Regions from separate parts of the Homo sapiens genome. Here regions 2, 3, 4, 5 and 6 are each reported to be linked to region 1. The links are microRNA targets in miRTarBase. Many come from high-throughput screens and were not tested one by one. Region 1 holds a microRNA gene; each other region holds the end of a gene's coding sequence.

The links. The annotated mature microRNA hsa-miR-6780a-5p reads UUGGGAGGGAAGACAGCUGGAGA and lies in region 1 at 2,896-2,918, shown strand. An mRNA with a match to its seed (bases 2 to 7 or 8) in the 3' UTR can be bound and repressed. Matches are read on the target gene's strand: a 7mer-m8 pairs with bases 2 to 8, a 7mer-A1 pairs with bases 2 to 7 and ends in A, and an 8mer does both.
Region 2: the mRNA of GPBP1 is a reported target of hsa-miR-6780a-5p. The part of its 3' UTR that is shown has no 7-base or 8-base seed match.
Region 3: miRTarBase lists DPH2 as a target of hsa-miR-6780a-5p. Seed matches in the 3' UTR shown: 7mer-m8 at 4,032-4,038.
Region 4: the mRNA of CHORDC1 is a reported target of hsa-miR-6780a-5p. The part of its 3' UTR that is shown has no 7-base or 8-base seed match.
Region 5: miRTarBase lists SUPT7L as a target of hsa-miR-6780a-5p. Seed matches in the 3' UTR shown: 7mer-m8 at 2,430-2,436 and 7mer-A1 at 2,599-2,605.
Region 6: miRTarBase lists PGAM5 as a target of hsa-miR-6780a-5p. Seed matches in the 3' UTR shown: 7mer-A1 at 3,351-3,357, 8mer at 3,319-3,326 and 8mer at 2,806-2,813.

The regions. Positions count from the first base shown.
Region 1 is chr17:42,705,962-42,711,041 of GRCh38, reverse strand. MIR6780A (microRNA 6780a) reads left to right here and starts at 2,891; the gene lies at 2,891-2,958. It overlaps EZH1 (enhancer of zeste 1 polycomb repressive complex 2 subunit), which reads left to right. Exons shown (of 21, transcript NM_001991.5): 13 at 1,105-1,196; 14 at 2,126-2,166; 15 at 2,959-3,084; 16 at 4,857-5,035.
Region 2 is chr5:57,262,136-57,267,223 of GRCh38, reverse strand. GPBP1 (GC-rich promoter binding protein 1) reads right to left here. Exons shown (of 12, transcript NM_022913.4): 12 at 2,551-4,630. The coding sequence ends at 4,472. Among named protein-coding and RNA genes, the nearest start is that of GPBP1, 91 kb to the right of the region's middle.
Region 3 is chr1:43,971,649-43,976,648 of GRCh38, reverse strand. DPH2 (diphthamide biosynthesis 2) reads right to left here. Exons shown (of 6, transcript NM_001384.5): 4 at 4,579-5,000; 5 at 4,315-4,491; 6 at 3,280-4,234. The coding sequence ends at 4,110. ATP6V0B (ATPase H+ transporting V0 subunit b) reads right to left here and starts at 1,689. Exons shown (of 8, transcript NM_004047.5): 1 at 1,542-1,689; 2 at 801-849; 3 at 476-559; 4 at 270-347; 5 at 1-59. The coding sequence starts at 1,608. LOC124904167 (a long non-coding RNA gene) reads left to right here and starts at 1,784. Exons shown (of 2, transcript XR_007066053.1): 1 at 1,784-2,206; 2 at 2,762-3,284. RefSeq lists silencers at 1,151-1,200, 1,601-1,650 and enhancers at 870-1,702, 1,901-1,950, 2,001-2,120, 1,703-2,536, 3,767-4,966 and 1 more.
Region 4 is chr11:90,198,118-90,203,200 of GRCh38, reverse strand. It overlaps CHORDC1 (cysteine and histidine rich domain containing 1), which reads left to right. Exons shown (of 11, transcript NM_012124.3): 10 at 326-388; 11 at 650-2,772. The coding sequence ends at 796. Among named protein-coding and RNA genes, the nearest start is that of CHORDC1, 22 kb to the left of the region's middle.
Region 5 is chr2:27,649,420-27,654,507 of GRCh38, reverse strand. It overlaps SUPT7L (SPT7 like, STAGA complex subunit gamma), which reads left to right. Exons shown (of 6, transcript NM_014860.3): 6 at 761-3,699. The coding sequence ends at 1,023. It overlaps GPN1 (GPN-loop GTPase 1), which reads right to left. Exons shown (of 14, transcript NM_007266.4): 14 at 2,997-4,393. The coding sequence ends at 4,308. Among named protein-coding and RNA genes, the nearest start is that of SUPT7L, 12 kb to the left of the region's middle. RefSeq lists an enhancer at 702-1,901.
Region 6 is chr12:132,720,095-132,725,182 of GRCh38, reverse strand. It overlaps PGAM5 (PGAM family member 5, mitochondrial serine/threonine protein phosphatase), which reads right to left. Exons shown (of 6, transcript NM_001170543.2): 6 at 2,449-4,505. The coding sequence ends at 4,355. It also overlaps the pseudogene RNA5SP379. Among named protein-coding and RNA genes, the nearest start is that of PGAM5, 12 kb to the right of the region's middle.

The DNA.
Region 1 (5,080 bases):
TCAGGGCCAGCATGTCCAACAGGAAAGGAACCCCAATGCTTTGGCTTCCTACCTTCTGGAGGAGACTCTGTGGCCTCTTCTTCATGCTTCCTGTACTGAGAACAATTAATAGAACCATGGACTGGGCAAGGTGGCTCACACCTAGAATTCCAGTGCTTTGGGAAGCCATGGTGGGAGGATCGCTTGAAGCCAGGATTTCAGGACCAGTGTGGGCAACAAAGTGAGACCCCATTTCTACAAAAAAAAAAAAAAAAAAAAAGCCACGTACCTGTAGTCCTAGTACTCAGGAGGCTGAGGTGGGAAGATGGCTTGAGCCCAGGAGTTCTATACTACATTGAGCTATGATGGCACCACTGCACTCCAGCCTGGCCAAGAGTATGAGACCCTCTCTCTTAAAAAAAAAAAAAAAAAACAAACAAAAACAGAACCATGAGCTGAAGTGCCCTTTGCTTTCATTTTGGAGCTCATACCTATTTCCCTGATCACAGGTTCTCAACGTAACCATCTATGGATTTGTATGCAAGAATGTTCTTGTCTGTATTTTCCTGAGAATAGTTACAGTTTTCAAAGATCCCCCACAAAGGGCCAATAGCCCCAACAAAGAAAAGGAAAAACTAAAAACCAGTGCTTTAAGAGAAAAAACACATCCTATTGAAATGGCTGAGGCTCCGGTATCTTTATACTGACAGAGGGAGCTAATATTTAGCCCACTGAAACCATTCCTGTCCTGTCCTGTCCTGCCTTACACTCAGTTACACAAGGCACAGCGTTGCCCTTCCTAAAAAGAAGAAGATACTGTTGGTCACAGTCAGCCCACTCTTCTACCCGTGGCTTGGTAGAAAGAGTAGTAGGTGACAGCTTCTGACCAGGGGCGGTATTACTGTGCTCAGTATTTCTCCTTTCCTGAGTCAGGATAAATAATTAGGAATGAACTTCAGAGCCAGTAACCCAATGTTCCAGTGGCACTCTGTCTCTCCCTGACTGATGAGAGGCTTGGTCAGCTGCCTGAGTTTCTCAGAACCCTCCCAAGGCCAGCACCCAGCTGGGCCACTTACCTGACCCCCTTGCTCGAGGAGTGACAGGCCCGTTGGATTTCTCTTCCAGGTCTTTCAGTTTGCAGTCAAAGAATCACTTATCCTGAAGCTGCCAACAGATGAGCTCATGAACCCCTCACAGAAGAAGAAAAGAAAGCACAGGCAAGAAGGGTTGGACAAAGTGTTTTGTTTTACAGCCAGGCTGTTCCCTGTGCTCTGACCTCCCCTTGGAGTTCCCATCTGCCTCCCTCTTTAGCAACCGCACAGGCTGTGTGAGCCCATCAGCTTGGCATCACATGACTGAGAGCCAGCCTCCTGAGTGCTCCCTGAGGGTCTGTGCCTTAGATCAGCCCTCTTCTTGTCCCCCAGTGCTGTGGACCATAACTGTCTGTTTTTCTATTTAAGCTTCTGGCCAATAGGACATGAGCTGGCCTCATGGCTCCACCCTGAAGCCATTTCTCCTTGTTGGTTTTGTTACCACCTTACCCATTTCTCAACTCTGATCAGAGTTTATTTATTTGTTTGGTTTGTGTTGTTTTTCTGAGTTACATGATAGCCTTTACTTAGGTTGGAAGTTTTTAAAAAAATTCTGCACCCTGGCCCTGTTCCCTAGTGACTATCACCTATCAGAGGAAGGAGCTGACACCACTTCTAGATACAGAAGGAAATCCCTGTGGCTCCTCCCTTTCAGTTCTTTCAGAGAAGATTCCTGAAAGGCCTTCCCACCTCCCCATCTTGAAACTCCCCCATATCTCCACCTCCACAAAGACAAAGGGAGAGATTTGGAGAGAAACAATAGCTTTATAATAGACCAATAGGCTTGGGCTTTCTTTTATTTCTGTGTTGTGTTCTTTTATGTTATTTGCTTGTTTGGGAGGGGTTGTGTTTAAGTTTAACTCTTGTAGCACAGGCCAGCTGGATTTAGGATGGACTCTAGCTTCTGTGTACCAAAGTCGTCCTGTTGAGGGGTTTGGGAAGATACTCCCCAGTCATCAAACACAGTCCCTCAGAGCAAGTCACGTTGTCATTTACCTGCATTTGCAGAGCTCCCTAGGGCCGTGACTGAGACCTGTCCTTCCTGTCTTTTTCAGATTGTGGGCTGCACACTGCAGGAAGATTCAGCTGAAGAAAGGTAAGTTCTACCAGGGCATTCTTCAGCAGTTCAGCTGGAGGCCTCACTCTGTGGTCATCACCCTACCCCACCTCCAGCTGCACTTGTTGACCCTGTGCCACTTCCGCAGATTGCAGAATTCTCTGCAGCAACTGAGAACAGCTGAGCCTCTCACTGCAACTGAGAAGACCTCTTAGGAGGTAACATTAAGGGCCTTGTGGTCTGTGATTTTTCTTTTTTTTGAGATGGAGCCTCGCTCTGTCACCCAGGCTGGAGTGCAGTGGCACAATCTTGGCTCACTGCAACCTCCGCCTCCCGGGTTCAAGCAATTCTCCTGCCTCAGCTTCCCAAGTAGCTGGGATTACAGGCATGTACCACCATGCCTGGCTAATTTTTGTATTTTTAGTAGAGACGGGGTTTCACCATGTTGGCCAGGCTGGTCTCGAACTCCTGACCTCAAATGATCCACCTGCCTCGGCCTCGCAAAGTGCTGGGATTACAGGCGTGAGCCACTGTGCCTGGCCAGTATGTGACTTTTCTAGTGTGCCATTTGCTAGGTTCCAGACCTCATTTAATGTTTAGAATAGCTTCCCTGTTGTCCCAGACCATCTCCACACCCTCCCCACAAAGCAGATCACCCCACTGCAGCTTATGAACAACGGTCATCCCTGTCTTCTCACTTCAGGTGCTAAATGTGTGTCCAAGGAGATTGTTAGGACCAGCCTCCTCTGAATCAGGGCAGCTGGACACTTGGGAGGGAAGACAGCTGGAGAGTATGGTCACAGCAGCATCCTCCTCTGTTTTCTTTCCTAGATAACTCTTCCACACAAGTGTACAACTACCAACCCTGCGACCACCCAGACCGCCCCTGTGACAGCACCTGCCCCTGCATCATGACTCAGAATTTCTGTGAGAAGTTCTGCCAGTGCAACCCAGACTGTAAGTGTGCTACGTTTTCTGTATAGTCTACCAAAACAGTTGGCTCCAGTGTGCCCTAGGCTTGCCCCATTCCTGTGCCCTTTACTGCTTATGGCCTTCTGATATCCCCTTTGCTGTGTTTTAGGGATTCTACAAATGAAATAAGTGCATGAGATCTGGGAGAGTCGTTTCTGGAAAACGTTTAGGTTCATGATTCTAAAAGCAGCAATTACACAGAAATCAGATACTTTCCCAACTTTGTCTTCTAGGGGAGAATTAAGAAATGTGGGGGGCAGCAGGCGCAGTCACTCACGCCTGTAATCCCAGCACTTTGGGTAGGCGGATCACTTGAGGTCAGGAGTTCAAGACCAGCGTGGCCAACTTGGCGAAACCTCATCTCTACTAAAAATAAAAAAATTAGGCCAGGTGTGGTGGCTCACGCCTATAATCCCAGCACTTGGAAGGCCAAGTCGGGCAGATCACTTAAGGTCAGGACTCAAGACCAGCCTGGCCAACATGGTGAACCCCGTCTCTACTAAGAATACAAAAATTAGCCAGACATGGTGGTACATGCTTGTAGTCCCAGCTACTTGGGAGGCTGAGGCACAAGAACTGCTTGAACCCAGAGGGCAGAGGCTGCCAGTGAGCCAAGATTGTGCCACTGCACTCCAGCCTGGGCAACAGAGCAAGACTCTGTCTCAAAAAGAAAAGAAATGTGGGACTCTTTTTTTTTTTTTTAAGTTACAGCCCCAGTTTCCCTTTTCTGAATACTGTTTTAAAAAATTTTTTATTCAGATATTTTTTGTTTGTGATTCTGTGTATGTCTATTTTCATTTCATAGCTGGAGTTTTAATATCAGGTAGAAGACAGGGGCCTGGATGTCAGCAGAGACATCCGGGTACTTATCTTTTACTTCTTATCCCACCATGCCCTTCCCAACTCAAAGCTGAGCAGTTTGATGGCAGTCCCCACAGCTTGCAGAACTTGGTGCCCAGGCGGTTTTGCTGGAGGAAATACCTCCTAACCCATAGCAGATAGTGATCTTAGCCGCAGCAGAGAAGTGGTTGCGCTGGGTTGGGCAGTGGGTGGAGAAGGATGGCATAGAACGGATGCATTCTGTTCTCAAAATGATACTTGTTTTGATGGTGACAATTTACCAGTGAAACACACTGATTTCATATTCTCTGGGGTACTCTCCACCTCAGTGGGAGGGAGAGGATTGTTGGGGAATCTCTAGGGGACACTTCTTATTAGTATACCTGCTTTTTTTTTCATTTTTTAAATTTTTTTGAGACAGGATCTCAGCTCTGTTGCTCAGGCTGGAGAGAAGTGGCACAATTATGGCTCACTGCAGCCTCAACCTCCCTGGCTCAAGCCATTCATCCCCCTACATCCATCAAGCCTGGGACTACAGGCAGGTGTCACCACACATGGCTATTTTTTTTTTTAATTTTTTTGTGGAGACAGGATCTCCCTATGTTGCCCAGCCTGGTTTTGAACTCCTGGGCTCAGGTGATTCTCCTGCCTTGGCCTCCCAAAGTGCTAGGATTACAGGCATGAGCCACCATGCTTGACCACACCTGCTTTTTTGACTCGAAGGCATGAATGTTGGGAAGCACTCAGTTTTCTATGGACAAAACTTGTGTATTTGATTATTGGGAAGGGAGCTTCCTCTTATTTTGCCAAACATCCTTGAACACAAAAAATTTACTTCTTTGCTGTCCCTTGAGTCAACCACAAGCCCCAGTATTAGCTTATTTCCCTTCTAAGACTTACCTGTCTTCCCTTCCCAGGTCAGAATCGTTTCCCTGGCTGTCGCTGTAAGACCCAGTGCAATACCAAGCAATGTCCTTGCTATCTGGCAGTGCGAGAATGTGACCCTGACCTGTGTCTCACCTGTGGGGCCTCAGAGCACTGGGACTGCAAGGTGGTTTCCTGTAAAAACTGCAGCATCCAGCGTGGACTTAAGAAGGTGAGGCCTTTCCTCAGGACCCCACACCACATAAAATGGAGGGGG
Region 2 (5,088 bases), not on the chromosome of region 1:
ATTCCATCTCTAAAAATATGAAATTTAGCCGGGCATGGTGGTGCGCACCTGTAACCCCAGCTACTTGGGAGGCTGAGACATGAGAATCACTCAAACCCAGGAGACAGAGGTTGCACTGAGCCAAGATCACGCCACTTACACTCCAACCTGGGTGACAGAGTAAGGCTCTGTCTCAAAAAATAAAAAAAAAGAATGGGTTTTGGGGGCAGGATTTTTAAATATTCTAAAGCCCAGGCCACGCCCCAGTCTAATTAAACCACAATCTGGGGTGTTGGTGGGGGATGGTGGACACATTGGGGAAGCTCCCCAATGATACCAATGGTGTAGATAAGTTTGGGCCCCACCACTACACATGCTCTTACATATTGCAAGTTAGGACACTGCTGCATGGAACATGCTTCAGCAGTGTCCTTCAACCAGACCTAATGATATAATACATTGTACCTTCAATCACTATGCCAGAGTAGTTCTACAAAACGAATCCATATGGGTAGGCAGAATGAACTTAAAGTTAACTGTACAACTGAACAAAAATTCACAATTACAAAACCTCTTAATTACAACACATTCTCAAGTCCTAAACTACGAATGTTTCAGGTCCACGTGTCCCATAACTATATATATATAGTTTTATATATATATAGTCTTATATATAGTTTTACATAGTTTTATAGTTTTTATATAGTTATATATGTAGTTATATAGTTATATATATATAGTTATACAGTTATATATATCAAGAGTCTCGCTGTCACCCAGGCTGGAGTGCAGTGGTACAATCATGGCTTATGGCCTCCGCCTCCCAGGTTCAAGCAATTCTCCTGTCTCAGCCTCCCAAGTAGCTGGGATCAGAGGCATGCACCACCACACCCAGCTAATTTTTGTATTTTTAGTACAGACTGGGTCAGATGGGGTTTCACCATGTTGGCCAGGGTGGTCTTGAACTCCTGACCTCAGGTGATCCTCCCGCCTCAGCCTCCCAAAGTGCTGGGATTACAGGCGTGAGCCACCATGCCCAGCCCCATAGTTAAATATTAAAACAATCACAGCTGTCCTCTGAGTCCCATCGTTTTAAGTGCAAGCATTCAGCCCTGCCTAAAGAAAGGAAATATTAAGTAGCAAAACAAAAACCAGAATCTGAAGCATCTCTGCGGCATCTGGAGGCTTTCACGGATTTTTCTATTGCTTGATATGTCCTGTCGTTCCCCTAACAGCCAAATAACTTTTATAACCTCAGGAAACTTAACTATCTAAAAGTTAAAATATCCAACTCTTAGTGATAATCATTTAAAAGCCCTAGTAACACATCCCTTATTGTGTAAGCCAAAATAAAAATCTCACTTTATAGAAATATTTCACAAGTGTGTATCCTTTCTACCCTAGTTATCATTTTTTTTTTATTTTGAGACGTAGTCTCACTCTGTTGCCCAGGCTGGAGCACAATGGCACGATCTCAACTCACTGCAACCTCCGACTCCTGGGTTCAAGCGATTCTCCTGCCTCAATATCCTATGAGTAGCTGGAATTACAGGTGTATGCCCCCACGCCCGGCTAATTTTTGTATTTTTTTTTTTTTAAGTAGAGACAGGGTTTCACCACGTTGGCCCAGGCTGGTCTCTAACTCCTGACCTCAGGTGATCTGCTGACCTTGGCCTCCCAAAGTCCTGGGATTACAGGTATGAGCTACCGCACCCAGTCTACCCTCATCATCTAGATTCAACTTAGTTTGCATGATTATGGAGCATGTATTTAGACTCCAGTATCAGATTAGGGATGATGACGGATGGGGTGTTAAAACAAGTTATTTAACAGATTCCTAAATTTAAAAGGTTTATATAACCACATTCTAACAGTATACATAAACACTAGCAAAAAAGGACAAAGTATTTTGGGGGAACCAGATCCTTTAACATACTGAATTCTGTTAATATAAATCTGATTAAGTCAAGCTGATTTTAGATTAACAATTTCAATAGAAATTATCTGCAGAAATATTCTAATCCTTATACTAAAATCAAGCAAATAGTTTTTGAAATGCTATTTTAAGTCATTACCTTAAGAATTTTGCTCATTAATTACATTTTATACCAAAATAAAATGAGAGGGGGGTGGAGAATTAGTGACAGGGACTTAAAAGGAACCAAGAAATTCGGGGGAATAATAGATTATGTTCACTTAGTTGTAGGTCAAAACACTGTAAACTGTATGTTTTACCTGTGTGTTCAAGTCAATTTATACCTCAATAAAGTGTTAAAAATAAAAAAGCTGCCAAAAAAATGAGTTTGAAACAGCCATATTTGCTTTTCAGACTTCCATGGCCTAGTTCTGAGTTCAGCAATTCCACATTAGATCTATAACTAGTTTCTGTGCTTGTAGGCTCTCTTTAAAACAATATGGTCCAAGCTGTTTTATCAGCTGCCCATTATTTAGACACCAAGCTAAAACTATGTTACACTTTTAACTGTTCTCTTAAATTACATGTATGGCTCCAACCCCTCATAACCAAGCTTATTAATGTCATTAACTTAATGCATAGAATAACCATACCACTGTACTTTACCATATTTATAAGGAGTAAATTACTAAACACATTCCATATCACAATGCATGAAAGCACAATAAACATGAGTTAACTGCTGGTAAATGGGAATTAAGGCAGAAAAAACTGAGTATAAGAAAGATGCCAAAAACCAAAACTACAGAATCTTTTCTGAAAGTAGAAAACACAGTAAGGTGGATCTCAAATGTAAACCACATTCCTCAGGTTCCTTCTAGCTTGTTTTTGGAAATACAGGTTGTATCTGATAAATTTCATTAATCTATTAAGCAAATAGTACAATCTAAGAGTCTCAAAGACATTCAATATGTGTTACCGATAGCTTCGTCAAAGCATGCTTTACATTCTCCTGTGGCTAATTCTAACTACATTTAACTTTAGCTGATTAGATTGAATTGTGACAAATTATATAGTGAAACCTTATTTTAAGTATAAGGTCTATTTAATATTTTATTACCATTCTAACTCTTCCTCAAGTTTTGTGGGAGTGTGCTAGTGTGTTGTTTTTAATTTCCCCATCACCATCAGTCTCAGTGGGAACAACAACAAAAAAAAATAACAGTTTCTGGTGAAAACTGGGGAGTCCAGGTAGGGTATTTATGCAGAAATAGCAAAAACACTGCAGCCATCTGAGAAAACACTTTTTAAAAAACAACAAACACTTAAGATTAGATCTGACATAAAACCTCAAGTATTTTTGCTCTAAGATTATGCTCTTTACATAAGTTAGAATATATTTAAACATAAGGGGGAGCTAAAAGCAAATGGGGGTAAACAAACCAGAAAAATCAAAATACAAATATACACAGAGCCAAAATAGTATTTCCGTCAGCAGCAAAACAGAAACAATTCCAAAATTAATGTGCAAATGAAAATAAAGTAGTTAACAGTCATTCATTTAATAAGCTTGTGTATTTGATAATGAAAACGCTTAGCTTTCCTTTTCTGACCTCGGAAAAGTAATCACCATCTTTAGTAAGGTATTACTTTTAAAAGTATGACTTTAACAAGTGAATAAAGCATGTTTAGAGTATGTTTATGTTTAGAAACAATACCTTGAACACTACAGAAAACAACAATATTCTGAAAATCCAGTTTATTTTCCATGTCGTGGACAGATCCAGTCAGTGTGATCAGTTTTTCTGCGTGTGTAATAATTTATCAAAATAAGTTTTCTCACAAGACTCTTTTCCATCAACTCTGAAAACCCTGGTCTGACAACATACCCCAATAAAGCTTTTGAAAATCACCTCTTAAAATTTGGAAGAAAATGTGCCAAGTCTTTTCCTGTAACATTTACTGCACTACAAATGGCTAAAGAGCAATTTATGGTTTAAAAGGTGAATAGTACAACAGGTGAGTTCAGGAAATTGTTTTAGTGCACTTTGCTCCAGTTTTAGCCAACATGCTACATTTTCCTTTTTGGTTTTTGTTTTGTTGTTGTTGTTTTTTGGGGGAAGGAGAGGGAGACCGCACAAAGTGGACTTGAGGATTTCCATTGTACGAAAAAGATATGACTCTGCAAGCAAAACAGTGTAAGCTGCCTTTTTTCTTAAGACCTGGACATTTTAAGACAGAAGCTTTGCAAAACATTACACAATTTTTTATTATTAAATGAGAAAATCTCATTTGTTACATCGTCACATTGCTAGTCAGAGAAATGTTGCAGTGATGAAGAAAGTCAATGTTGGACCAACCCAAGTCCTCATTCCTACAACATTCATTTACAAAGAAATAATGTTCAACACAGCCCAACAAAACATTCTTGGTTTTCTTCATATTGAAGTCCCCCAAAAAATCCTCTTCTAATGGGGTATTTCACTACATAAATTATAGTTCTTCATTTTTACAATTCACCCCAAACTGTATGAGAGATGTATCACACTAAGATTTCTAAAGCTGTTAGGAAATCCTTCACACATCGTCGTCATCTGATGTATCACTGCTACTTGTCTCTGTGTCATCATTCTCAGTTGTGGGTTTGAAAGTGCTGTTCTTCCACGGTCCAAACTTGAAGTCACAGATCAAGCCATTTTTCAAAATACCATTTTTTCTCAGACCATTCTTCTGTAACTAAAATGTTAACAGCAAAATAAATAAATTATCCCTCAAGAGTTACAAACCTACTGTAATAATATAAGCATGAATATAATAAAATTGTATCCTAACCCAAAAACTACACAAGTAATGATATTTCTGAAAAAATTCTGGATCCAGACAAAGTAGATGTGAGTAATAATTGTCACACTGATTAAGGTACTAAACTTTCCCACATTTTTATTGCCTCAAGTGACAACTGTAATAAATACCTTCAGGGACTTACCAGAATATAATCAGAAACCATTAAGCTGTATCTGTTATTTTTATTATTCTGACCTAAATTAATACACCCCCCAATCTGCTTTGTTCATAGTTTGTAAAGTAGAATGAGGTATATAAAGTTACAAAATTGTCTCGTTTAACCGGAGATGAAGATACTAGAAAAAATACAGTTCTCTATTTCTGAAAATGAGAAATCATAACTAAAAGGT
Region 3 (5,000 bases), not on the chromosome of region 1:
TGCTAATGACAATTGCCATGATGATGCCGTAGATGGCCACAGCCTCACAGAAGATGATGCTGGTAGTGGTAGAGATTAGGGGTAAGGAGTGGAAAGGAGAAAGAAATGAGAAAGAAACCGTCCTTCCTGCCCAGTAAGTCCCCAGCAATCTTTCCCCTATAACATCCCATCCCACAAGGTGGCTTGTCAGAAACAGTATGTCAGATCAAACACACAGGCAGCGCCAACACAGCTGGTTCTGACAAAAGTCCAAGGACCCTGACACTTACCTGACCAGGTTCTTGGTCTTGATCCTGGGGGCCTTCACTCCTCCACCAATGATGGAGGAGCCGGTAATATAGATGCCCCTGGTGGAAGGATAAAAAACTGATGAGCAGAGCCCAAGCTGTCACTGCCCTCAGCATGCCTAAGACCCCAGTGACACCACCTGCCATGACTCAGCCCCTGCCCCCAGTCCCACCACCCCAATACTCACCAGGCTGCCCCAACCACAGACAGGGAGATAGCTAGGCCAATGCCCAGGTTGGACCACATGAAGGGCGAAGTCTCCGTCAGGAACCTGTTGTGGAAGCAGAGAAGAAAGCAGTTCAGCTCTAGCAGGGAAGCGGAGCACAAAATCTTAACCCCTCAAACCCCCTTCAACCCCACCACCAGTTCTACAGGCAACAACTGACCGCGTATTTCCCAAAGGTCCATGTCCCAGGCAGGCAGTGGTGTGGGGGAGGGACTCAGACCAGAGAAAAGAAGAGAGGCTGCAGGGAAGAAGCTTCAAGGGGAATCCTCCCCCTGCCCTCCCTTACCATGCCACATCAAAGCGGAAGCCCAAATCAAAAATGGTGTAGCAGACTCCTGCAGCAGTGAGGGAGAAAAAGGGGGTTACGGGCTGCTCGGTAGAGAGAAGTTCTTCAACCTAAAGTAGCTGCCGAGCTGAAGGGCCACCTCCCTGAAGGGGCGTCCTCAGGCTGCCCCCAGGTGACAGTACAGCTGTGTAGACAGATTCCTCTGCTTAGGCCTCCATTTTCTGCCATTCCCTCGCTAAAACCACCTCCCAGACCAAGCACCTGCGCAGGCAGGGTCGCCACCCGCAAGCCCGAATCCGAGGCGGGACCGAGGGAGCAAGCGCTCCAGCCAGATCCCGCCGGCCCAGTCCGTTCCGCTGTTTACCCAACAAGCTGTGGGTGGGGGAGGGCAAAGCGACTGGGAAAAGAGGAACCGGAGCAGCCGGCTTGTGACCGAGCGGGCCGGTCAGGAGCAAGAAAGGGGGGACAGCAGTGAGACGTGGGAGCGAGGGGAGACAGCGATAGTGGCAGGACGGGGGAGTGCTGCCCTCGCGGCCCCTACCCGCCCGCACCCCTCCTCAAGCAGCTGGAAATCCGGGTCTCCTTTGTCGGAGTCAGAGGCCCTCGCAGGCGCAAGTCCCCAGAGCCTCGGGTGCAGAGCGCGCGGGGGGCCAGTATTCCCCGCAGGCCACTTCCCCGCCGAGTTCCGACCCGGCCAGCTCGGCCGCGATGCTGCTCCCGCCCGCCAGGACCCGGCCTCACCCACGGCCAGCGCGCAGGCCCAGAAGGCCACGAAGACCCCGGAGTAGAGCAGTGCTAGCCCCGTCATGGCGGCGACGGCGGCGGGGGTCGGAACGGCGGGGCCGGAGCTACAAACGCGTCCCAGCGTCCACCGTCCGTCCCGCAGTCTGTCCGCCCGCCCCGCAGCGTCACCTAACTCGCCCACGTGATGCGCCGGTACCACGTGACCCCACGCCGGTTCCCCGCGCAGCGCCGCCGCCCGTCTAGAGCAAGGCGACGCTGGAACCGCAGGCGCTGGGGATTGTGGTAGTTGTAGTCACGCGTCTCGGCGGAGGCTTGGGCGCCCTCCTCTCTAGGAACTTCGACATCTGGCCGGTCCTTCTCGAGTCTCTCCACCTCGCCCTGCCAGCCCTGTTTTATTCCCGAGCCTGCTCGCGGGCCCCTAAGGCGTCCTCTCTGGCAGCCGTGCGTCCTAGCCTGTGGCGGGTGGCGCCGCGCGTGCCCTCTGCCTCACCTTGCTCACGGCGTCTCTCCGCCCCAGTGCGCCTGTTGGCGCTCGCTCCGCTGCCTGGCTAACACCTGCTGTCCTCCGAAATCGTCCTTCCGGCAAGCCTTCCCTAACCCAGTGGCAGGGAAGCGCGTTTGCTGGGCTCCCGCGATGTCCTGGTGATGCTTATTAAGCTTCAGTAAGATGTCACTACCCTGTCGAAATGCCCTGATGGCTCCCATTTCATTCAGGAGAAAAGCCAAAGTTCTCACAATAGCCTGCTAGGCTCCCCACGCCCCTCAGCTGACTTCACCTTCTAATATTCCCCCACTAACTCCCTCCTCTGGCTGCACTGCCCTCCTTGCTATTTCTTTGAACGTGCCAACCATACCGCGACCTCACTGCCCTTGCACTTGCTCTCTCTGCTTCTCCTAACTATACATGCGGCTCATCCTGTAACTTCCTTTCAGTTTTTGCTCACCTTCTTGAAAAGGCCTTCTCTGACCATTCTGTTTAATATTCCACCCCACTTAAACGCTCCTCTGCTTCCCAGCTTTACATTTCTCACGGTACTTACTGATCACCATTTGGCATACTAAGTATTTTATTTGTCCAACTCCCCTGGAAGAGTGGAAGCACCATGGCTTTTGTGTCGCTCACTGCTGTATTTCCAGTACCTGGCACAGAGTGTGTCCTCAGTACATATTTGTAGAACACATGACTGATGCCCACTTTGTCTGGGTTACCTTGTTAGCTTACAGCTCTGCCTCCACCATTAGACTAGGCATTCCCTGAGGGCAGGGACCACATCTCCTTTGTTCACCTTCAATACCCTCGACAATGCCACTGTGACCAGATTCTCAACAAATGTGGGGAAGAAGAGGCGAGTCTTTTCATTTCACCCCTCTCCACCTTTAGGGCCCAGCAACCCCACTTGCTTGAAGCATCCGCCATGTTGGTTCATGTTTAAGCCCAAAGGTCTTTTTCACTCCTTTTCTCCTGACAATTATTTTTTCCTCCAAAAGATCCAGCATAGGTGTTATGCCCTCTGGGAAGCCTCCTCTTAGTCCTTGTCAGGTATCTCCTGTGGGATCCAGCTGTCCCTGGGGCTTCCCTCCTCCCAGATAGAGCTGTTTCACTGTGTACTGACTGCGTATTTAACTCTCTTTCCAGGTACACTGGAAAGGAATCTGGTTAAATACAGTTAACATCTACATCCCAGGACCAGTGCAGGACCTGCAGTATTTCATGAATTAAAAAGAAACACAAAGAGAAAAGGTATCTGGTTTATTTAGGTTGCTGTGATCTCCCTGAGAAATAAGAGTCAGTATAGACCAACGCTGTCCAACCAATAGAACTTTCTGCCATGATGGCATATCCTGTAGCTGCACTGTCCCCTCATGTGGCTGTCTGAACACTTGAATGACTAATGTGACTGAGAAACTGAGCTTTTAATCTTAATTAACTTAAATTTAAGTTTAGCCACATGTATTTAGTGGCTACTGTACTGGACAGTGCAGGTCTAGCTAGACCAGTGGTTCTCAATTGAGGGCAATTTTCCCCCACAGATAACATTTGCCAAGGTCTGGAGATATTTTTGGTTGTCACAACTGGGGGAGTGCTTCTGATGTCTAGTGGGCAGAGGCCAGGGATGCTGCTGAGCACCCTACCATACACCAGACAGCCCCACAACAAAGAATTATCTGGCCCCAAATGTCAAGTACGAGTTTGAGAAACCCTGGTCTAGACTGTCTAGCACCTGCCTTTTGACAAGGACAGACCCTCAACTGCAGCCTGGGAACTGGGATTGGCCAAAGGTCCTGGGCTGCCCTCAGGAAGACAGATGGGTCCAGAGGCCTCAGGGAAGTCCCTAAGCCCTTTATTCCATCAGCCAAACAACACGCATTACTGGGCATGTGCTGAGCTTGTGCCAGTGCCAGGACAGGACAGAGACGGATCCTATCCTGTGAAGGGCTGCCTGCTCTCCCTCCTTCCAGGGTCCTTCAAGGATCTTGGCAGGGGGATGGGAGGTTGGTGCAGGGAGCACTAAAGGTCCTAGCAGCCATTCATAAGTCCATCTATGTCTCCAGCCCCACATGGTATCAGCCGCTTCCCTCATCCTCATAGGCGATGGCAATCCCTCGTCTTCCACTCACAGCTTCTGTCACTGGCGTCTGACCCAGGCGGGGCTCCAGCCCTTGCCAGCTCCGGGAACTAAGGAATGAGGCTGTAGAGGGAGGGGGCTCAGTCTGAGTGCGCTGCATCTGGAGAAAAAGCTCAGCTGGGAGTGGAGACTTGTACATTTACCTGCAGGACTGCTCTCAGCCAGCTCCAGCTGGGGCCGTGGGGTCAGAGCCAAGCTTCCATGATCATTTGATGACTTCCAGGCAGGTGGGGGTCGGAGATCTCCAGTAATGAGTGACACGTCTGGGGTTTCCCACAGCTCTGACTCAGGTGGTGGGAGAGCCACGTGGAAGGGAGAGCCTGAAAGGGAGGAGGAAAGAAAATCCATACTCACCCCCTGACTCCGTGCCCCAGGTTTCCAGCTTAGGCAATGCCCCCACTACTCACCAGGCAATAAGTCCGCATAATGTGTGAGGTGGGGAGCCAGGCCTGGAGGTGGCCAGGCAGGGTTGCAGGCAGCTTCCAGCTCACATGGTGCCAGTATAGGCTGGAAGAAGCTACCAGAAAGCTGGGGGGCTAGAGCACCCAGAGGACAGGCTAATAGCACAAAGACATCCACCTCAGGGAAGTTGGCAAGCTTGGCAGGGGTGGGCCGCCCCAGGGCCAACACATAGCTACGCTTGCCAGCAGCCTGAGTCAGGTTCCGCAAGTGGGCCAGTGCCTCACGGTGTTGGGCTACACCCAGTGTGCCTGCCAGCAGCCCTACCACGCGGGCATCTCTGGCCCTCTCTACCAGATATCGTCTTCGTGCCCTTAGCCGTCCAGCCCGGGCACCCTCATCCTGAGTCTTCCCTGTATCTGGACAGCAG
Region 4 (5,083 bases), not on the chromosome of region 1:
TTTATAATGACTCCCATTAAAAAAAATTAAATTACTTCTATGAAACTATTTTAAATGAAAATTTCTGTATAGTAGACTTACTGCTGAACCATTCTGGAGATACTGTAGTAGATTTATCAAGTAATATAGTACTTAGTTCTCAATATGAAACTTGAAGCCAGTTATTCTTTTTTGTCAGTGGCTTTTCTCATATGAAACAATACAGTATTGGCAGTTTCTTAAAATAGCTTAATTCATTTTTGTCAGTCTTATTTTTATAATCAGTGTTTGATAGCATAAATCTTCAGTTTGAATTAGATCAATTAACTGTGTATATCTTTTTCAGTTAAATGTGCATATTGTATTTGAAGGAGAGAAGGAATTTGATCAAAATGTGAAATTATGGGGTGTAAGTATTACAAATTTATAAGAATTTTTTTTCTGATAACTTAGATCATTTGTAGAATAAAAGACAATTCTTCAGTAAACATTGATGCAAAGTATAGATGTATAACTTAACAGTGTATCCTACCAAAAAGTTTAAGACTAGATATAAAAGAGGCCTTTAGAAGCTTGGATTTGGGATTATTGGCATAAGCAAGTCTGATGTTTTCCTCTGAGACTAATAAAACTACTGAGGTTTCCTGTAATTCTCTTTGATATGTTACAGGTGATTGATGTAAAGCGAAGTTATGTAACTATGACTGCAACAAAGATTGAAATCACTATGAGAAAAGCTGAACCGATGCAGTGGGCAAGCCTTGAACTGCCTGCAGCTAAAAAGCAGGAAAAACAAAAAGATGCCACAACAGATTGAGTGGGAGATGGAAGGAAGGCTATTACATTATTTCCGAATTTTTAATACTGTGTGAAGTGGTGGCTTGCTGCTGTAATCTTTTGTTTTGTTGTTGTGTTACTGAATGTGGCATTTCAGGGTTAACATTAGGTTCTTAAAAGCCAAAGTCAGTTTGTCTTTTTGTGCCTCTCATCTTTCTTTTGTGTTATGTAAGATTGATTATTCATTTCTCCCTACTGGTAGGAACCATAGTTGTGTCCTATACTTGAAGAGGCTGGAAAGTAGCCCATAACCATAATTGCAGTATTTCTTTGTATTTCTCTGTTAAGCAAAGAAATATTAAGGAACATTTTTTTTATGTTTTTGTATTATTCCATAATTAGTAAAGCAAGATGAAATGTCAAATTTTAATCAGTTTTTTCATGGATTTGTGTTCTTACAGTACTTGAAAATATTTAAGGAAGAGATGAAGCTCTGCAGTTTTTTCTATGTGGGATGATTACTTTTTTAAGGAGGATTAATTCTGAGGTAGTATAGTAACTAAAGGGGAATATATGAATTGTTTAACAAATTAGAATTTGTTTACAACTACTTGAATTTTTAAATTATGTCAAAACTTACATTACTTGCCAAGCAGTATGATGTTATAGGAAACATAAATAAGATTACAGAGGTATCAATTTGGTTAAAATTCACCATTTTATAAGACTAAGCAATAATCTTAACAACCTCTTTCCTGAATATTTAAATGTGTTTGTATGGTGTTATGACTAATTGTTACTGATTTAGAGACTAAGCCCTCTTAAAACCTTTAGTTAAATATAAAAAGAAATTATATATATCTTGCCTCCCTGATGGAAAACTATATAAAATTGTAGACTTAAAAGGTTTGTGGAAATACATTAGGATATCAGAAAACTAAATATATGGAGTTGCTTTATGACTATTACATGTTAAATAAAAATAGCTTAATTGTTTTGGAGTTTTTTTTTAAAGTCATGAAGAGCTTCACAATTCTAGTGATACAATGTTGACTATATATTGTACTTTATATTAAATATAGGTAATACAGAATTAGATCGTTTGGATAGGTTTTGAGTTAGTGCAGAACTCAAGAAGAAAAATTAGGAAATATTCTGAAGGCCAGAACTCTGGAAGAACTTAGAAAGTTTGGGAATAAATTAAACTTATGTAGATTTAAAATTAAAAGGGGTTTATTTCCCAAACCCCTTGAGTCTTTTCTTTTCCTTGGTATTTATGGAATTCTTACAAAGAAAAATTTGCAGAAGTACTATTTTCGTGAATAAAACATATGTATCATTCTACTACCATTAGCAAATAACTTAGTTGTAGTTAATATAATTGTTAAAAGGTTTAGCTCTGTTACAAATAAAAACATAAAGATCTGGCAACCAGACTTTCATGATGTTACATTACCATGACAAGAAACTCTGGGCAGTAAAAGTTGGACCCACATGGAGTACATAAGCATCTGATACCTGGAGATGTATTTAAAATTTTTCAAGTTATCTTCCATGATTTAGGAACCATTTAGAGACATGAAGTCTTTATGGGTTGGGGGAAAGGTTGATAATTAGTTTGATTAAAGGTAATGATTAATATCCCTTTTTGTTCATACTTCCTTCTGAGGCTGTTTTCCCCTAAACAGTATCTTAATCTGTTACATGTAATTGAAATATTATTTGAAGCAGTGAGTTATTGTAACCTCAGATTAGTTACATTGATCAAAACATTGATTTATACACACACACACACACATACATATGTAGCTTTTATATTTAGTCTGGTTACATTAGTGACCATGGTATTTACTTTCTTCTTAAGGAGCCTTTGAATTTCTTGTCCAGATAAAAATCCGAATATTTCTCTTAGACTCATACATAAAGGGACACAGTTATCGTTAGGTAGCATATGTTTTACTATCGGTTTGTCAAAAAAGTTAATAAAAAGTGCTTATTGATTTATTTCTCTAGAAATTTGCTTTGTCTTTTTTAGCATTAAAAATAATTACTATAGCAAAGCAGTCAAAGTTAGGTATATTATATATATACTTGGTAACTAAAGATGGGAAACCTAAAATGCTATTTTTCTTTCATAGCACATTTACTAGTATAAAGGAAGTAAGATCCTAATAAACTGAGCCTTTATTTAACTTCTTTGACCTAGTTTTAGGTTTACAGAAAAGTTGTAAAAATACAACAGTTCTTTATGTCTTATATTAATCTTAATGTTAAAATCTTACGTTATCATAGAACATTTATAAAACTTAAGAAATTAACCTTTGTATAATACTATTAACTAAAGTAGAACATTTTATTTTTACCATCTGTTTTTAGTGGAATTCTTCAAGGTCTTAAGACTTGTCCTACTTTTTTGGTAATAATTTAAGCCAGTAATTTATAAACAATTAAGATATGATTAGGAATCAACAAATGTTTATAGGTTGAAGATGTAACTTCTTGGTGTAACTATACTGGCAAAGGACTGTAATGATTTTACTTTATTCTAATTTATATTTTATGCAAGGATTTAATTAAGAATTTTCTTCAGAAAATTATTCAACCATCAAAGTGTAGAGAAACTTAAAGAGTTCTTGCAAATATTTTAAAGGGACTTTGAGTTATTTCCCCTCTCCGAACTCCCAATTTTTTTTTTTTTTTTAATCAGTTATTCCTCAGCCTGAAAATTTATGTCATGCGTATACTCACAGTAAGTAAACTTTTTTTTTTTTATTTTTTTTATTTATTTATTTTTTTTTTTTTGAGACGGAGTCTCGCTCTGTCGCCCAGGCTGGAGTGCAGTGGCGGGATCTCGGCTCACTGCAAGCTCCGCCTCCCGGGTTCACGCCATTCTCCTGCCTCAGCTTCCCAAGTAGCTGGGACTACAGGCGCCCGCCACTACGCCCGGCTAATTTTTTGTATTTTTTTTTTTTAGTAGAGACGGGGTTTCACCGTTTTAGCCGGGATGGTCTCGATCTCCTGACCTCGTGATCCGCCCGCCTCGGCCTCCCAAAGTGCTGGGATTACAGGCGTGAGCCACCGCGCCCGGCCAAGTAAACTCTTAAAAGCTCATTTATGAGGGCTGGTGTCCCTTTTAGGATATATGGGTATGTACTCTGTAAATTTTGTTTTTAGCAGTCAGGTACTTTTAAATTATCTATTTGAACATTAACAGGGTTTTTTTTTGTTGTTCATCTTTTATGGCAAATTATTTTGACTTGGCATTCATATTTGTTATTTACTTTGTTTTCACCAGTATAATTCCATGGCCTCAGTTTTGAAATGCAAGCTATTAAGCCCAGCTTGTTTTTAGGTTTTGTTAATAGGGTTTTCTGTTTCATTTGTTTTGATTGTTTGATAGGTTTTTTGTTGTTGTTGTTAATTATCCCTGACTGCTTCCCTACTGCCCAGGTATCTTAACAACTTAATCTGGTGGTGTTGGATGGCTTGCCTTCTTCAGTTACGTATATGCCTATGGCTTTATACATATGGCACTATCTCTAAAATACCAGGCTTGCAGAGGTTTTCTTCTGCATGTTCTTTAACTTTTTAACAGAATTCTTCATTGTGAAGATTATCTTTAAGAACAGTTTTTCTGAAGACCATGTTTTCACTAAAAACTCAATGACTTTTCTTAGTTTTTCCGTTTAGTGGGTCACCTTTAATGTCCATTGAAAAGAAATATAACTTCCAGCCTTAAACATTTTTATGTTTCTTAAAGATTATGTGTCAAAATAATTCAATTTGCCATTCCTTTTTCATTAGGCAGAGATGCTGCTTAAATGTTTAAATTATTTTTTAAAAACTTTGCTAATAAAAGTAAAATCAGTGATTGAGTCTGGAAAAGGGAAACCTCCCTGAACTTGAGGCACTTTCCCCTCGTTCAGTAAAGAGGTTAGATGGATGTATTAATATTTTTAAACACCCTGATCCTTTTCTTCATTTTGCTTATTTCATTTTGCAGTTTCATATTTATTCAGATTTTATTTTTATGATTAACTTGTTAATCTTCTTTACCATGCTGTGAGGTGGGTTTTTTTATTCTTATATTACAGATGAGGAAACTGACTTTATGACATTGGTTAAGTAGCTTATCCAGAGTTCAGACTAATGAGTTGTGGTATAAAGATTTCAAACTCATGCAGCCTGCCTCTGTGTTGTTCCATGCTCTTAACCACTATTCTGTGCTGCTTCTGATATAACATGGGCATATAGCATGGAAAACTCTTAATGTGTTTGGTAACCAGGAACAATTTTTTTGTTGTGTTAGTAAAGTTATAAAATTATG
Region 5 (5,088 bases), not on the chromosome of region 1:
GGACAACTGACTGGTTACGTGTCAGTTAGGTTGCAAATTAGTCTGGACACTCAGTTGTTTACAAGTATAAATTGTCATCAATGCACAAATGACTCAAATAGCAAATCCTCAAATGTGGTCTAAATGGAATTAGGTCATACTTTTAAAAGTGTTGGGCAGAGAGCCTTTCACTATGGAAGAATAACCATAAGAGAACAGCATTGCTAGAATACATAGAGAGATGCGAGGGCCAAAGAGAAATTGTTGCGGACTTCGGGACCATGTCTCTTCAAAGAAGACCAGGTAGAGAACTGCTGTTAGCATTATGTAGTGACCATTAACTTTTCATAATGCAAGAGATGACCAGAGACCCAAACAAAAGGCAGGAAAACAAGATGGCCCCATAAAAGAAGGAAGGAAGGACAGGCAAACTAAACAACTGAACAAGTCCTGTGGTTGTGCATGTCTTTGGGCTGTGAGACAGGGGATCTTTCCACCTGCCTAGTTTCACTTCCCTGGTTTAGGGGAAATGGGGGTGGGTGAGGTAGAGGAAAGAAAGGTAGAAGAAATGGAAAAGAAGATAATCAGAGCTGGTAATTTTTTGGGATGGTTAACTTTTTGAAGCAGAGAGTAACAACCATATTCTCCAGCCAAGTACAGAATCAGAGTGAAAACTGAGCTCAAAGCATATTAGTTGGTTCTGAGTGATATATTTACTCTTTGTTCTACACTTGGCTACACATATACACTTGGTGTATGTCCATCTTTCCTCTGTTTCTAGGTGCAGAGGTAAATGCTTCTCCTCTTTGGAATCTGGCCCATGTGAAAATGGAGCCTCAAGAAAGTGAAGAAGGCAATGTCTCTGGGCATGGTGTGCTGGGCAGTGATGTCTTCGAGGAGCCTATGTCAGGCATGAGTGAAGCTGGGATTCCTCAGAGCCCTGATGACTCAGATAGCAGCTATGGTTCCCACTCCACTGACAGCCTCATGGGGTCCTCCCCTGTTTTCAACCAGCGCTGCAAGAAGAGGATGAGGAAAATATAAAAGGAAAAGAGGGAGATGTTTTGTCCAGACCTACTAGACCCAACAGAAAAGGTTTTTGTATTAGAATCTGTTTCCTTAAAAATTGATTTGACTCCTGTTCTTAAACACAAGTGGTTTTTCCTAATTCCAGAGGAACTGGACGTCACCAAACAAGGTTGCATTTTACTTTTGCATCCAGTTTTTATAGTTTTCCACAACCAAGCCACCCTTCACAGATAAAATATGATGCTGGCATGGCAATCAGACCAAAGCACTGTCCCCAATTGTTGTCTTAACTATGACTAGACATGTTATACAGCCATTTATCTTGTACAACTGAGAAGAATCATACTTTGACCTACCTTGTAGAGATGTGAGGATTTAGATGTTTGCTAACTTCAAAACTGTGCTTGAATAGACTAATAATATATGCTCATATCAGATGTCAGTTTTCATTTAACTTGATTCATTTTTGGCTCAGGTCATTGGGAACCCATTACTAATACCTAACAGGAAATAGCTAAACACAACACACCTTATCTATTAGTCACCTTCTTAAAACTGTTTTTGCTACTTTTGAAGTGTCTTATTTATAAGATCAGAGGTCTGACACCTTTTTTGCTTAGACAGCTCTCTATCTCATCCATTTATTTTCTTCTCTAGACTTACTCCATCTCTCCTCATCCTTTTGCCTTTGTTATTTCTGCTCGGACTCACATACTTTCACCATATACATATTTTCAATTGTTTCTTTCCTTTTCTCCTTTGTGAGCAAAGCAAACAAGTACTGTCCAAGGACAGCCTTGTGCATATTTCATTTGTTGCATTTGCTTGGTCATCAGAGGACAGCAGTCCATTAAGCACACTTTGCTGCTTCTACTGTAAAGGCAGCCTTTAAAACATAGCAATATGCACCTTTCAACTTTACATCATGTCCTGAACAACATCACTGTGGTTACTCATCCATCAGACTATCTGTATATATAAGTACTGAATCAGTATTTATTAAGTAAATGATGTAGCACTGTAGTGATTAGGAATCATTAGCAAATGTGTTGCTTCATGCCTTGGTGATGGATGCCAGCATGTTAAACTGCTGAAGTTTGATTTTCTGATGCAAAATATATCTTGTAAAATTTAGACCACTCCTTTAATGCAGACCAAAATAAGGCACAGCTTTAATTCATTATTGAATGCCTTAAATGTCCCAGGTATTGAGAATAAATGAATATGATACAAATGAGGTTATAGTTTAACATATAATTTTAAATTTGCCAATTGTAACTCTTTAGCACATTTCTCTAAACCCTTTCTGTCACAGTCTTTTTTTTAATTTATTTATTTATTTATTTATTTTTGAGATGGAGTCTTGCTCTGTCACCCAGGCTGGAGTGCAATGGTGCAATTTCGACTCACTGCAACCTCTGCCTCCCAGGTTCAAGCGATTCTCCTGCCTCAGCCACCTGAGTAGCTGGGATTACACGCACATGCCACCACACCCAGCTAATTTTTGCATTTTTAGTAGAGATGAGGTTTCACCGTGTTGGCCAGGCTGGTCTCAAAACTCCTGACCTCAAGTGATCTGCCCGCCTCGGGCTCCCAAAGTGCTGGGATTACAGGCGTGAGCCACTGCACCTGGCCTCTGTTGCAGTCTTATCTTCATTTTCCTTTGTTTATAATGAAAGTGGCGATTAGGCAGTTAGTTTCCATAAAGTGGCCGTATGGGAATTTAGTTCATTCATCCAGCAAACATTGAGTACCAATTATTTGCTAGGTCCTGTGCAAGGAATACAAAAATGATTAAGACTTCTTCCTTACCCTTTTGGAGCTTGAAGCATAAGGAAGACAAGTTATTCTGTAAGGAAGATAAAGCATTCAAAAGTACTACAGAGAAAAACCAAGTATGCTTGAGTTTTGCGAATGTTCTCCTCTTAAAGAATAGCTTCAAATTTTGAGACCAGTGGTTCCCACTAAGTATAGAACATTAAAATTAATACTTTATAATAAAACACTTTTATTGCTGCAGAATGTTAAACTGCATAACAGGCACCAGATGGTCAAGACGAGGGAAATATGAGAAGGCAAATGATGTGAGGATTAGTATCTTGAGATTCACCTGGTCTGGAATTATGTCATAGGCTACTATGCATCAGAATCACATGGAGGGCTTTCTAAAACAGACTGCTCAGCCCACCCCCAGGGTTTCTGAGTTCATAGGTTATAAGAGGTAAGTTGAACAATTCCCCAGATGATGCTGATGCTCCTGGTCCACAATGTGAGAACCACTAAGTTGGAGTACTGACTCATAGAGATAAAATTCTTTGAAAGAAATGTACTGTTTTAAGATACTGTAAAATGTGGAGGCAGGGCAAACGTTTATAAGGGCTGTTATGTATGAAATGTGCCTCTGACCCAAATCCACGGACTTTGCGAAAATCACCAAGGAGACTTTGCATTAAGTTCAGAGTACAATACAAACTGGGCCTAGCTCTGTATTTAGTCAGTATGTGCACGTGGGAAACTTTAGTAAAATATCACCTCCTTATTGAGACAAGTTTGGACATCTGGCCTTAAGCCTCTGTTGAACAGGAGAAGTGAAGCTGTTTGCAATTATATAATTTTCTAATTTGAAATCATGACAAGCAGTCTTAGAACAAAGTTAAAATTAAAAAGTCTTTATCCAAGTCACCAATGAAACAGGATTCTGATTCATTAATCATGTCTTGCCCACTTTTTTCAACAAACCTGACGTCCTATAATGAGCTATACAGTGTGAGGCATATTTCATAGCAACGTTGGTTGATTGCCAAGGAGACTCTGCCACCGTTCTGGATAAGCTCATGTTTCCCTTTTCCTTGGCTGCTAATAGAAGGGCAACTTACAGTGCAGGGTCAAGAGCAAGAAGCTGGGGGAGTAGAGGCTATACATCTAGCCTAATAATAGAGATCTGAGGTGGTCACCAGGAGACTACGTTCTTTTGATTCCATTCCTCAGCAGCAAAAGTACTTGAGTTCAAATGATAAAACTTGAAGTTGTAGGCTTGGAAGAGTATCAGCTCAGTATATCCTTCCTTGCATAAATACAAGGGAAAGGCCAAGGAATAATCAGCATTAACCTGCCAGGTCCAAGGGTCTTCTATCCCTGACTTCATCTGAGTCACAAGATTTCTCTAATAAGAGAAACTTTGCTACTCTGAGGAAAATTATCCCTTATGGGAGCCCCCAGTTCAGAGGTAAGAACAGTTCTTTCACGTGGAGGTCCAAAATTCTGGACTTCTAGAAACAAGTGAAGTGTGCTAAAGTCTCCTATTTATTGTTTCTCTTCCAGTATTGTGCCATCGATTCTTGCATAAAATTCTGGAATGCTGGCTCTTCATGGCTTTCCTCTGTAACTGCAAGGAAAAAAGGGCAATTCTTTTTCAACTCTTTCATTAGACAAACTGATTAGAGCCCGTCACCCATCCATCAGAAAACAGTACATTACTTCTAAGAAACTTAAGTACTCACTTCCCTCAAAAAGGAAATGTCTCCTAGAAGCATGCTCTATCATGCTGCCCAAAATGTAGTTTCTTTATAAGTAGAAAGAATACCTCCCTCATAGTAGCTAAAATAAGGTCCCACTTGTAGGTATTTTTAACCAAGAGAAATGAAAACATACGTCTACACAAAGATCTATTTGGAAACGTTTATAGTTGCTTTACTCATAATAGCTAAAATCTACCCAAATATCAGTCCACTGGGGAATGGATAAACAAACTGTGGAACATCCACAATAATGGAATATCACTCAGCAATAAAAAAGAACATACTGATACATGCAACAACATGGAGAGACTACACTACTGAGTCAAAAAAGTCAAATGCAAAAGGCTAAATACTGTGATTCTATTTCTATGGCATTCTGGAAAAGGCAAGATCAAAGGAACAGAAATCAGTCAGTGGTTGCCAGGCACTAGGTGTTCAGGATGGGGACTGAAAAAAAAGGGGCATGAGGAAGTTTTGGGGGGTGAGGGAAGTGCTCTACATTTCAACTGTGATTGTGGTTACAAGAAAGTATATATTTATTAAAGCTCATCAAACTATATAC
Region 6 (5,088 bases), not on the chromosome of region 1:
CAGCCATGGTGCTGCGTACCAGCCGTGGGAGTGCCAGCGGCGCCATGGCAGGGACCACAGCCAGGTCCTCCAGAGCCGTGTGGATGTTTCCAGAAGCCTGCAGAGTTTTCCCAGGGAAGGGCTGATGGAAACCCTCATTGGGGCCCGGCTGTGCGTGCGGGGTGCAGGCGTGTTTGTCGTGGTTGGAAACCCTGTGACTGCTCCAGCTGCAGATTCCCGCCCGTGCTCCCTCCTTAGAAAAGGCTTTGGGATAAACGTCGGCATGGCGACCCCTGGCAGCTGGCCGCCATCTGGTGGCATTGCCTTTCCCACCAGTCTCATTGAGGCTTCTGGTGTGCAGTTTTCACTTTGGCCAGACAGAGGCTATCGTTACTAACATGTGAGAAGTCTTCAGTCTGTCCCAAACCAGGGGACGGTTTCCATCGTTGACGTCGCTGGGCCCCTGTAACTCACCCAGTCCAGACACCCTCAGCCTTCCCCTCATGCGGCTCCCTCCACGCAGGCGTTCACAACATGCACACTGAAGATCCCTGGGGGCTGCCCTGGTATGGGTCAGCTCCCCACTCCCCAGTCTCCTGCCTGCCCCTCCCTGCCTTCTCCCCCGCCATACCTGCCCTGAGTCCAGCATTCAGAAATTAGACCCCCACCAGCTACCAGCCAAACCGGGAGCCATCCTCACTTTGCTAATCTACGTCCGTCCCACATGCAGAAGACTGGAAAAGGCCATTTAAGGAAGAACCACTTTGAACAGCAGGTATTTTAGAAGGGAAGTCTACCAGGCACAGTGGCTCATGTGCTTTGGGATGCCGAGGTGGGCGGATCACTTGAGGCCAGGAGCTCGAGACCAGTCTAGCCAGCATAGTGAAACCCATCTCTACCACAAATGCAAAAATGAGCCAGGTGCAGTGACGCACACCTGTAGAACGAGCCACTTGGGAGGCTGAGACATGAGAATCGCTTGAGCCTGGAAAGCGGAGGTTGTAGTGAGCCGAGACTGTGGCACCGCACTCCAACCCAGGTGACAGAGCCAGAGTATGTCTCAAAAAAAAAGTTTGCTGGGAATTTACTCTAGAAAAAGAAACTAAAAATTATTTAAAGTTTCATATTCAAGAAACTTAGGTAATCATCTATGGGCATACTACCCCGAGCACACCCAGTCTCTCTGATCTTGGCAGATAAGCAGGGCCTGGTTAGGACTTGGAGTGGAGGCTGCCTGGGAATACCAAGGGCTGTAGACTTGGTTATCATTGCTGTACGCTCTTAAAGAATTAGTCACACACTGAGTTTGTGGCTTAACTTTTCAAAATCCTTGACTTCAGATTTGACTTAAGCAGCATAATCAGGTTTTCTTTCCTTTTGGGTTTTGTTTGTTTTTTTGCAGAAGGATTTGAAGACTCTGGGTCACTGGTTTCTTGTGATCCATTGAAAACTGCTCGTGGTCTCCCATCCACTTCCCCCTTTAGACCAGGTAGTCTGTCCAGATCTTCACATGAGTGCGACTCACGTCTATGACGTGAGCGATGGGAGTGGCCGTGGGCTGCGCAGGGCATTGGGGCCAGCTGATGTGTGGTCATTCCACTTTGTGATGAGCTTTGCTGCCCAGCAAACCTGCGCCTGCTCTGAGCATTGCCTCAGTGCCAGGCGTGCTGGCGCTGCTCCCACCTCCAAGCTTTCCCACTTTACAGAGGAGCCGGGGCCCTAAGCAGAACAAAGGCTTAGCCCTGCAGCGCTGCCCCATCCCTGGAGGCCCAGCGTTGGGGCTGTGGCGTGGGCGCCCTGTGTAGCTGACTTAGAGCATCCCGGACTGCTTCCTCGCCAGCCTTGCTCCCGTCTGAGGTCAAACGTGAGCGTGCCTGGTATTTGTTTTTGAAGTTGGCGCGTCCCTGGCTTATCAAACTATTTCTAGACAGTGGTGTATGGTTGCTGTGGCTGTTGTCTCCACAACCATTGGTCAGCCTTGCCGTCCTGGTCAGGGATTTGGAAAGGGCCCAGGCCACTGGCGGAAGTCCTCTGAGCAGGCAGCCGGTGCGATGCGGGCAGAGGCGTCAGCCACGGGGAGACAGGACACTGTGCAAAGGGTTCTGGTGACACCATCGTTTCTCACACTGCACAAGTTTCCTTTTTTTTTTTTCTTATTAGATGGTGTCTTGCTCTGTGGCCCAGGCTGGAGTGCAGTGGAGCGATCTCGGCTCACTGCAAGCTCCGCCTTCCGGGTTCAAGCGATTCTCCTGCCTCAGCCTCCTGAGTAGCTGGGATTACAGGCGCCTGCCACACCTGGCTAATTTTTGTATTTTTAGTAGAGACGAGGTTTCAGCATGTTGGTCAGGCTGGTCTTGAACTCCCGACCTCATGATCCACCTGCCTGGGCCTCCTGAAGTGCTGGGATTACAGGCGTGGCCACCGCGCCCGGCCGAAGTTCCACGCTTTTAACACACTCACAACTAGTCCTTTTAAAAAAACAGTAAAATTTTATTTATTATGCAATCATTTCCAAAGTAGACAGAGAAATAGATCAGATATCCCAACTGTATTGACTACAGAAAATAGTCACAACCACTTCATAGAAATTGTACTGTTTTTCCTAAATTAACAGCATATCTGGGTACACACAACATGTTTGAATATTTTAATCCCTGGCCAGGCATGCTAGCTCACGCCTGTAATCCCAGCACTTGGGGAGGCCGAGGTGGGTAGATCACGAGGTCAGGAGTTCGAGACCAGCCTGGCCAACACGGTGAAACCCCATCTCTACTAAAAATAAAAAATTAGCCAGGCATGGTGGTGGGCGCCTATAATCCCAGCTACTTGGGAGGCTGAGGCAGGAGAATCGTTTGAACCCAGGAGGCAGAGGTTGCAGTGAGCCGAGATCGCGCCACTGCACTCCAGCCTGGGTGACAGAGCGAGACTCCGTCTCCAAAAAAAAAAAAACAAAAAAAAAACCACACATTTAATCCCTAAGCATAAAAGATTAACTGGAGGCAAACTAAGATTGAGCTGTCAATCTGAAGTATTTTACTCAATAAGGGTAACCCCCTATTGGGCTGTCACTAGCGTGTCACCTCAGCCGAGACCAGCATGAAGGTCAAAGGCGAAGCCACCTCTGTAGACCCACCTCACCTGCCCCTCCCCCATCCAGTCACCTGTGCAGCTGGCTAGTCCCTCGGCCCCTAAAGACCTAATCAAGTTGGTGAGTTCAGACCCAACATCATCAGGAAATCTGTAAATTTGGAGAAACTTGTTTTCAAAGCAAAAACCCAGATGAAGAAAAAAAAATTTTTTAGGCCAGGCACGATGGCTCACACCTTTAATCCCAGCACTTTGGGAGGCCAAGGTGGGTGAATCACCTGAGGTTGGGAGTTCGAGACCAGCCTGAACAATTCTATATTGGTTTCTCCATGAAACCCTGTCTTTACTAAAAATACAAAAAATTAGCCAGGTATGGTGGTGGGCGACTGTAATCCCAGCTACTCGGGAGCTGAGGCAGGAGAATCACTTGAACCCAGGAGGCAGAGGTTGCGGTGAGCCGAGATCGCACCACTGCACTCCAGCCTGGGCAACAAGAGTGAAACTCCGTTTCAAAAGAAAAAATTGCTTTAAGTCTCCCTCGCTTGCCCAGGCTGGAGTGCAGTGACACAATCACAGCTCACTGCAGCCTCCAGCTCCCGGGCCCAAGTGATCCACCCACCTCAGCCTCCCAAGTAGCTGGGACTCTAGATGCCCACGACACACCCAGCTAAGTTCTGTATTTTTAGTAGAGACAGGGTCTCGCTATGTTGCCTTGTCCAGGCTGGTCTTGAACTCCTGAGCTCAAGTGATCCTCCCACCCTGGCCTCCTGAGTAGCTGGGAATACAGGTGTGAGCCACTGTGCCCAGCCAGAAAATCTTTAATTGACAAATATTTAAGGGACAAGAGGGTTTTAAGAAATTAAAAGGATGTATGAAGTGAAGTGAGTTGTGAACAGAACCTGGGTGCCCTCCTCATCCACGTGCCTCAGTCGCCCTCGTGCCTGACCGGCTTTGCCAATGGAGCCTGGACCCTCAGCACGGGTCAGCTGTGGGTGCGAACATGGTGGTCTGGGTCAGGCCTCTTTCAAGTCCCCACAACAGGCCTGACTTGTGCGTGAGACGCTTTCACCTTAAACCCCACGCCATCCTGGGGGTTCATGGTCAGGTATAAAACCCTGCAGAGAAGTCAGGCTGTCTGATCCCAACTCTCCCCTTCTCAGCCTGGTCACAAGTCAGTTCCCAGATGCAGCATTGCAGGTTTCTACTTTCCGCCGGTCTCCTTGGGAACAAAACGTTAAGTGTGTGCGGCCTGTGCAGGGAGGACAGAGGGAAGGAGAGGCCGGAGCCCTCAGGATCGAGTGATCTTGTCGGGAGGCATGAACCCCGTGTCCCCGAGGGTCCTGAGCGCAACTCGGCCGTTGGGTCGGATCACCAGGTGGGTGATGCTGCCATTATTGAGGGAGAGCCGGAGCCAGCCTTCAGGAGGAAACTGCAGTGCTCTGGGGAGAGAGAGAGAGAGAGAAAGAGCACGTTAGAGCCAGGGGGCTCTGTCCTTAAAACGGGCTGAGCTAGGCCGGGCATGGTGGCTCACACCTGTAATCCCAGCACTTTGGGAGGCCAGGCGGGTGGATCACAAGGTCAGGAGATCGAGACCATCCCAGCTAACACGGTGAAACCCCATCTCTACTAAAAATACAAAAAATTAGCTGGGCGTGATAGCAGGCACCTGTAGTCCCAGCTACTTGGGAGGCTGAGGCAGAAGAATGGCGTGAACCCGGGAGGCGGAGCTTGCAGTGAGCTGAGATCGCGCCACTGCACTCCAGCCTGGGTGACAGAGCGAGATTCTGTCTAAAAAAAAAAAAACGGGCTGGGCTAGAGCCAGGGGACTCTGTCCTTAAAAGAGGCTGGGCCAGGCTGTGCCAGGGGGCTCTGTTCTACAAACAGAGGCTGAGCCCCTCAGAAGTCTCAGAGCAGCCTCAGGGCCGGGGTACACATCAGCCGAGCCGCTCCTGTCTTCAGTCGGGGCTTCTCGGGGAAGATCTGGCTGGGATCGACGTGAATCGATGACTGGGATCGACATGA